3 separate regions of the Homo sapiens genome follow, and regions 2 and 3 are each linked to region 1. Evidence: fine-mapped expression QTL. A gene starts in region 1. Each other region holds a variant in brackets. All regions are shown on one strand. Distances are from middle to middle. Region 1 holds the start of KANK4 (KN motif and ankyrin repeat domains 4). Region 2 has its middle 51 kb from the start of USP1. Region 3 overlaps KANK4 (KN motif and ankyrin repeat domains 4).

What was found. PIP is the estimated chance that this variant, and not a neighbour inherited with it, causes the effect. A credible set is the group of variants that fine-mapping cannot tell apart.
Region 2: its variant is the best candidate, but not a certain one, in a credible set for the expression of KANK4 in subcutaneous fat (GTEx, PIP 0.65).
Region 3: its variant is the best candidate, but not a certain one, in a credible set for the expression of KANK4 in amygdala (GTEx, PIP 0.73).

Annotation. Positions count from the first base shown.
Region 1 is chr1:62,318,083-62,320,841 of GRCh38, forward strand. It overlaps KANK4 (KN motif and ankyrin repeat domains 4), which reads right to left and starts at 1,352. Exons shown (of 10, transcript NM_181712.5): 1 at 1,024-1,352. RefSeq lists enhancers at 1-669, 670-1,392.
Region 2 is chr1:62,384,533-62,387,291 of GRCh38, forward strand. No RefSeq gene overlaps it. Among named protein-coding and RNA genes, the nearest start is that of USP1, 51 kb to the right of the region's middle. RefSeq lists a silencer at 2,246-2,540. The variant T/C (reference allele first, on the strand shown) is at 1,551.
Region 3 is chr1:62,298,078-62,300,836 of GRCh38, forward strand. All of the region lies in intron 1 of KANK4 (KN motif and ankyrin repeat domains 4), which reads right to left. It also overlaps the pseudogene RNU6-371P. Among named protein-coding and RNA genes, the nearest start is that of KANK4, 20 kb to the right of the region's middle. The variant T/C (reference allele first, on the strand shown) is at 1,300.

The DNA.
Region 1 (2,759 bases):
CCCAAGCAGGTCCTTGGGAATCGTGTTTAACTCAAGATGCTTTCTCCCCATGCCTCAGCCGGGTCACTGGCTGCATCTGATCCTCCTCTGGCCCTATTTGGTAGATAGGACTTTGCCCAGGCCTCAGGGGGTCCTCCTCCCTCTCCTGGAAAATACTCCCTCTTTGCCCTAAAGGCTTGCACTCCAGGGCGCTTAGGAACTAAGACTTGAGTTTGGCAGCCCCGAAGGATGCCCAGGGCAAGAGTTAGGTTCAGACCCAGCGTAGCGGCCATGGGCTCGACTTTCCAACTCCCATTTCTGGCCAGTCTGCGGGGTCAAAGTACCCAGTCACAGATTTGACCTTACCGGAGAGGCAGAAGGGAAAGGAGCCCACAGGAGGCATGCGGGCTGGGCAAAGCGCCCTCGGCGGCGTCTAGAGCACTCGGAGCTGCCCCATTGCCTCCGCCCAAGGTCGCGGCCCAAAGGGAGCCCTGGAAAGTTCAGCCAGGGGCCGAGGAGTGCCAGGGTTGGCACTACGGGGAGACTTTTGCGACAGGAGAGAGACTAAGAGCTCGATTCCAGGTAGCAGTGGGAGCCCGCGGCAAAGAACGCCCAGTCCCGCAGGCTGCATCCCAGACCGCAGCGCCTAGCTCGGAAAAGCTGGGCGGGGGCTGCACCACCTGAGTCGCAAGGACAGCACGGCCTCCCCCTCCTCACCAGTGTTCTCCACCCCCAGAATTGGGGCGCGGAGAGCCAATCTGGGCTGGAAAGGGAGCGGCGCCCACCTTTGGGCAGCCCGAGCAGCCCCGCTCCTTTTCTGTCGCAGACCCCAGGCTGGGAGGCGGGGGCGCCAGGTCGGCCCAAGCTGCCGCAGCCACTGCTTTAAAGGGAGCCGGGGACGCGGCGCTGGGGACTGGGCGAGGCGGGTGGCAGAGGCAAGAGGAGAGTGGTCGAGCGCCGGGGCCAACACTCGGGTCGCGCAGGGCGGGTGTTGAACACCCCAGCAGACGCACTGCGGGGGACTGGGGTCGCAGAGTCCCTTACCTTGGCGAGCTGCGGAAGTCCTGCGCGAGGCGGCCCGCGGTGCACGGGGCCGGGGCAGCTAGGCGCACACCCCGGCTTCGGAGCGCACGCAACCTCCGGGTGCACTGTCCGCGTCCCAGGCGCGCACCCCGGGGCTGGCGCACCCTGGTCGTCCGCGGCGCGCACACCCTCCAGGCGCCCTCTGGCCGACGGTCTCGGCCCTGGCCCCGGCGCACCCCTGCGGGCACACCCACCGCGGCGGATGCGGGACTGGCCAGGCGCCGCCAGCCGCGGCTTCGCCCCGCGTCGCCAGCTGCCAACAGCGCCCGAGTCCCCGCCTTCGCTAGGGGAGAAAAAAAAGACTCCTGACGCGGCGCGGACTTTGGTGTGTAGGAAGGGGCAGAATTGCGAAACCGAGGGGAGGGTCTTAGCCTCGATAAACTCAAAAGCCCTTGATAAACATGAGCTTAGAAGAAAAACTTTTTGAAAAGAGACCAAAAACTCCTAACCTGTTCATAGCGCTTTTCAGATTCCCAAAGTGCTTTCGTATGCGTTTATCTCGGTTCATCTAGACATTTCCATCCTCATTTGATAGGTGCAGAAACAGCACCAGACAAGGTAATGACTTGCCCCAGCCAGGACTGGAACCTAGGTCTGGCCACTGGGAAGCTGGGTGCAGTAAGTTAGGTCCTCGCCAGCGGATGTGGGCCAGTGAGGGCTGGGGTCCTAGTAACAGAACTTTTACCTCTCCTAAATCGTCTTTTTCCATCTCCTTTTTTTCTTCCCAATCCTTGCTGTAGTCCCACTCAGGAACCCTAAGTCTTTCATTTCACACTCCGACCTCCCACCAAAGGTTTGTTGTTGTTGTTGCTGTTTGAGACGGAATCTCGCTCTATGGCCAAGCTGGAGAGCAGTGGCGCGATCCCGACTCACTGGAACTTCCGCCTCCCTGGTTCAAGCGATTCTCCTGCCTCAGCCTCCCGAGTAGCTGGGACTACAGGCGCACACCACCACGCCCAGCTAACTTTTGTATTTTTAGTAGAGACGGGGTTTCACCATGTTGGCCAGGCGGGTCTCGAACGTCAGGTGATCCGCCCACCTCGGCCTCCCAAAGTGCTGGGATTACATGCATGAGCCACGGCGCCCGGCCCACCAGAGTTTTTTATCAGTTCAAAATGTTTGCGTTTCAACCGCTAACCTTGAATGAACAGTTCACTAAGTGCCTGGTGGGCGTTGTGCACCCTAACCCTAGGAAAAAGGAGCTGCTGCTACTCCTCCTTTACAGATGAAGACAACAGAGATAGGCAAGTAGAGGGCCGTGGACCCCGTAAGACTCCGGATGCCAGCTCTGACCCCCACAATGGGCATCCTTCATGGGCCCATTGGCAAGGGCTAACACTTAGGCAAAGGGGTTTCGTTTTTGACATTGTGACCCAGATGGGGGAGTACTTTCTAGGACTTTCATTTTACGTTTTTATAGAAATATGGTTATTTGAACGATTTCACTTCCACTAGAGCTCCACTGGAGCAAATCAATATCCCAGAGCAATAATAAATGGCAGCAGAGACTTGGTCCCAGTGTTGGGACATAGTAGGGAGTGGTGGGGACTGTGGTGAGCTTGATAGCAGCTCCAGGTTCTTGCCCAAGGGAAGGGGCTGCTGCTACTCAGCTCAGTCTATTTTGTCATCTAGGGAAAGGGATTCATGTGGCCAGATCCTCCCATTTTGAAAAAGAAGCCATCAGCCGGACACGGTGG
Region 2 (2,759 bases), 66 kb after region 1:
TGCTTCCTGTACAGCCTGGGGAACCGTGCATCAGTTAAACCTCTTTTCTTTATAAATTACCCAGACTCAGGTAGTTCTTTATAGCAATGCAAGAACAGACTAATACATTGTTGCTACGGTCAGTTAGCACTTCTCAGATGCTTACTATGTCCCAGGCGCTCTGCAAAGCACTGCTGAAGCATTGCCTTTTTAAATCCTCTCAACAGTCCCCATTTAACAAGACACAGAGCAGATCAGCAGCTTGCCCAAGGATCAGCCAACTAGAACCACCATGTGTCTGACTCCAGATTACATCACTCCACTCTACCTCTTACAACAGTCTGCAGCTGTTGCCAATGAAAACGCCTGTACAATAGAATGCAAAAAATAAATAAATAAAGCCTCTGGGATGGGGGCCAACAATTGAGACTGGAACCTGGGATAAAATTGTTATTGCATCAAGCATTAATTTAGAACTAAGCCTCCCAGAGACCAAGGCAAAATGTCATATGGTGTCTGACTTTTAAAGAGAAGCCCTGCTCTTCCCTTCCCTCACCCCAAACCTGGCCCACTCCTACACATTTACTCATCGTTAAAATCTAGGAGCAATCTACATTTGCTAGGCACTTTTCAGTTTTTCAAAATATATACTTGTTCCTGACACCAAAGTCTCAGCTAAACTGATAGCGTGGATTCTCATAGGAGGAATACTGAGTGACCTGATCAACAATATCTTCATGAGAGTTGGTGCAGGGGTTGTGTGACCACAATCCCAGTGACTACTCTTGGTGTCAGCCCTCGATAAAGGCAGGCAGCAGAGTGTTCAGTCTGTGGGCCCTAGCAGGAGTAGGTAACAGTGGATCATAGGGCTCTTTGCCCGACAATGAACTACTGTGATCCATTCAACTGCAAGTAACCATTAACACCGTTGTGTGGAAAATCATGCATTGCTTTATACTGTACTCTTTTTTTTTTTTTTTTTTGAGATGGAGTCTCGCTCTAGTGCCCAGGCTGGAGTGCAGTGGCGCGATCTTGGCTCACTGCAAGCTCTGCCTCCTGGGTTTACACCATTCTCCTGCCTCAGCCTCCTGAGTAGCTGGGACTACAGGCTCCCGCCACCACATCCTGCTAATTTTTTGTATTTTTAGTAGAGACGGGGTTTCACTGTGTTAGCCAGGATGGTCGCAATCTCCTGACCTTATGATCCGCCTGTCTCGGCCTCCCAAAGTGCTGGGATTACAGGCGTGAGCCACCGCGCCCGGCCTATACTGTACGCTTATATGGGACAAGGAATAGCAGGTCCAAATATTTAAGAAAAAATTACAGAAGAAATTAAAATTTAAAATGATACCCATTGGCCTAATGTATTTTCCTGAAAACTGGGGGAAATACAGAAGCACTAGATTTTAGTAGGAGAACATCTTGGTACAGCTCACAGAAAAGTAGTGATCACAAAATAAGGTTACATGTGAGAGGACAAAGTTCCTTAATACCTCCATTATTTTTCATGCGGGGCGGTCCCTGAAGTGCGGAGGTCAAAGCAGTCCACGGGTAAGGAGGAACCGGCCAAG[T/C]TGGAGGAGGCAGAGCTGTGAGCTTGCTGCCCTTCCAATCCCTAGAGTAGGGCAGGGGCCACCAGCTCTCAAAAGTCAGCATTCTTCCATAGAAAGGATTCCTTTCTGTGCCATAGGCTAAGCATTCTATTTCTTACTCTGCCACTGGGCCTAACAGCAGTGAGCTAATATGTTTTATGAATTTCTAAGACAGAGCAGCTTAATGCTGCCTTTCCCAAACTTTGATCAAGGAAAATCTGTATTGGCAGCACATCTATTAATATCTATATAACAGGGCTCCTCACGACACACTGATCTAATGTAATGAGCAGACAATGGTGAATAAACTTTGGCCCATGACCAAGGGAAAGGAAACATAATCCTTGTGTTGTGCTTTTATCTTGCTTTCTAGTTTAAATGTTGGTTTCTCTTTAAATGAGGCCCTCTGATTTACAGGAGTCCTTTGTGCAAGAAAAGCGTATTTGCATTTCAAAGTCTTACATTTCCCAATACAGCCAACTTCTGAGAACACATTTTACTGTGATAAAGACCTTTCTGAGATTAGAAAGCTAAACAATAGTACAGTGCATTAAAAAAGTTCTTTACTATGGAATTAGCCATGAAAGACCCATAAATACTTAGACTATCTTCTTTGTCTGTGAATCCATTGGACAACTACATAGTCAGCCTGCTAAGGAAATACGTGACCATCCATATGTGGGTGGGTTAATGGGTAGTAACTGTAGGGCATGTATCTTCCAGGAATATTAACTATTCTCCAGCTGGGTGACTTTGACAAATCACTTCCCCTACATGCATCTTAATTTGACATCTGAAAAATGAGGGTGTTGGATTACAGCATTTCCAAACTTCTCCAAAGATAAGAATCCCTGGGGTAGTGGTTAAATATTGAGATTACTAAACCCTCCATGGAAATTCTGATGAAATGGATCTGGGTTGGAGCCCAATAACCTGGTTTTTGTTTGTTTTTTAGTTGCTTGCTTCTATGCTTGCTTGCTTGTTTGCTTTTAAACAGGAGCTTTAGGTTCCTATCTTCAAGGAAGTTGGGGAAACCTTGACTAGATGACTGAGAGACTTTCCAACCCTGCCATTCTGTAATTCTATGATTCTGCGAGGTAGGCCATCCACCAGCCCCCTCACTAGGAGTTAAAATAAGATGTTGAGAAATTTTTCTTTTGTAGGTTCTCGCCGATGATGGAGGGACATCTG
Region 3 (2,759 bases), 20 kb before region 1:
CCCTGTCAATAATAAGCAATGGATACAAAATCAGAATCACAGGGATAGGAATCTGTGGGGCTTTTTCTTTTTTAAATATGAAATGCTTCATGAATTTTTGTGTCATTCCTTGTGCAGAGGCCATGCTGATCGTCTCTGTATCATTCCAATTTTGGTATATTTGCTGCTGAAGTGAACACAGGAATCTGTGTTCTAACCAGCCAGCCCTCCAGGTAATTTTTATGCACACGATAGTTTGAGAAGTACTGTTCTAACCTACTGTTAAAAATCTTTGGTAAACTGTAGTTCATTGTTTCTCAAACTGTAGTATGCCTATAAACCTGAAGATCTTGTTAACATGCAGATGCTGATTTGGTGGGTCTGGAGTGGGGCCTCATAGTTGGCATTTCCAACAAGCTCTCAAGAGATGCTGATCTGCTGGTCCCAGCACCAAGTAGCAAAGTGTGTGGTCAGGGTATTTGTCTGGTTGGGGAGGAATGGGAAGGAGCTCAACAGCCCTAATCATGATTCCTAGCACCAGCACTTGAAACCGTGTGACCTTGGGTAAGTCACTCTAGCCCTTGAAGCCAGCTTCCTCAGCTATAAAATGGTACAAAGTAACACTCTCCACTGTATAAGGCTGTTCTGATGGCTACATGCCTATACCTTACACAGTACTTGGCATGTAGAAGACACTGAAATACAAGCTGTGGTTGCTGTTGTTTTTGAGGGAAGGAAGAAACTGGTAAGTGCCCAATAAAAGTCAGTTGTTTTGTTATTATTTATTGAGAGTTGTTGTGTGGTATATTAGGCACTGTGCCAAGTACTACACTATTATTATTTACTCTTCTCAAAGACTCTATGTCTCTATGTATTATTTTTTTTTTTCTGTTTAACAGAATAGGAAGCCTAAGCTCAGAGAGGCTTAGTAACTTGGTCATAGTCACAAAGATAGTAAAAGGCAGAGCTAGGGATGAATTTAGGTGTTCCTGCCCAAGATTTTTTTTTTTAAGACAGTGTTTTGCTCTGTTGCCCAGGCCGGAGTGCTGGATTACAGTGGTTAAAATCACAGCTCAATCTAGCCTCGACCTCCTAAGTTCAAGTGATCCTCCTGCCTCAGCCTCCAGAGTAGCTGGGGCCACAGGTGCATGCCATGATGCCTGGCTAATTTTTAAAAAATTTTTTGTAAAGACAGGCTCTCATTATGTTCCCCAGGCTGGTCTCAAAGTCCTGGCTCAAGTGATTCTCCCGCCACAGCCTCCTAAAGTGTTCAGATTACAGGCATGAGTGACACACCCAGACAACTGCCCAAGCTCTTAA[T/C]GGCCCAGACTGAAGCCTGGTTCTGTCTGTGCCCACCTGAGTCTAGAAAAGGTGGTGAGCTGGTACCTGATGACCCCACAACATGGCACAGTACAGGACCGGGGGTGCAGAGGTAGAGAATGGGCAGCAGCAGACAGAAGCCTCAAGGAAGGATTGCCAAGGAGCAGAGAAAAATCAGGCACAAGAGAAGGGGCGGGACCAGGTTCCAAAAGGATTTAGACACCCAGCAAGCAATCAGGAATAGAGCCTACAGTGATGAGGACCGTGTCTTCTTTACTTCTGTTTCCCAAGTGCTTAGTACAATGCTGACCATAGTGCTGCCTCATAAAGATGTAGCAGCTGAATTAATGAATTATTTAAATAATGGATTAATTCATATTTTGAGGGTAGCAAATGATTTGAAATTTGTAGGTAGGATGTTTTGGAGTGGGAGAGAGATGTTCACCTCTGGACTTTTCTTTTTTAAAAGAGTGAGCCGTTCAAAATAGAACAACTGGAATATTTCCCTTGGAGTGCTGCCAGTGCACACAATGCCTCCTTTTCTTCCCAGGTCAGAAGGCGTTTTGGGCCCAGCCCCTCGGCATGTGTGTGCAGCCTGCAGCCTGTCCGACATACTTACCCACTTGTGCTCTGGAACACAAAGGCCTCCCACCTGCCAAGCCCAACACAAATGCCTCCTTCACCACAGTCCTCTGGTGTATGTGGGTTCAGCTGCTGCTGCTGCTGAAAGTCCCCCTCCAGGGCAAAAGTGAGGCTCCAGTGGCTCCAGTCTCTCCACGACTGCTCAGAGAAAGAGACCACAATGCTTTCTCAACCATTGAGTCCCCTTCACTGGCCACAAGGCATGAAGTTCAATAGCCCAGTAACTTGAGGAAAGAAGAAAAGAGACCCTTTTCTGTTCAAAGACCAGCCTCGACAGATTGTGTGCAATCATCCATTTATCAGAAATTCTTCTTCAGGCACTGGGCTAGGTTCTGTGGACTCATGGATGAAAAAGACAGGGTTCTTTTCTTTAAGGAACTCACCGTCCAAAATGGGAGGCAGAGACCTAAACAAGGACCTATGTGGTGTTAGAGAGGTGTGGCTGGAGCATCTCAGAGGATCAGAAAAACATCACAGATCTGGTATTTTTGAGCTGGGCGTTGAAGGATGAGTAAAAGTTAAGCAGGCAGATGGGAGAAGCAGCTCTCTAGCTAGAGATGAAAACATGTATGGTGGGCTTGAAGAATGACCAGCAATCCTGGCCTAGAGTACAGGGTCGGGGAAGCGGATGGCGGAAGACAGAGGTTGGAAGTCAGCTCATTTTATTTTCTAGAATAGGAAACCATCAAAAGTTCTTAAGCAGGGAGGAACAAGACGAAAGCTGGGTTTTAAATACAACTCTGACTGCAATGAGGGGCGTATGTCCCCAGATTCTGGACTATTAGTAGACATTCAATAAATATTTACAGAATGAACAA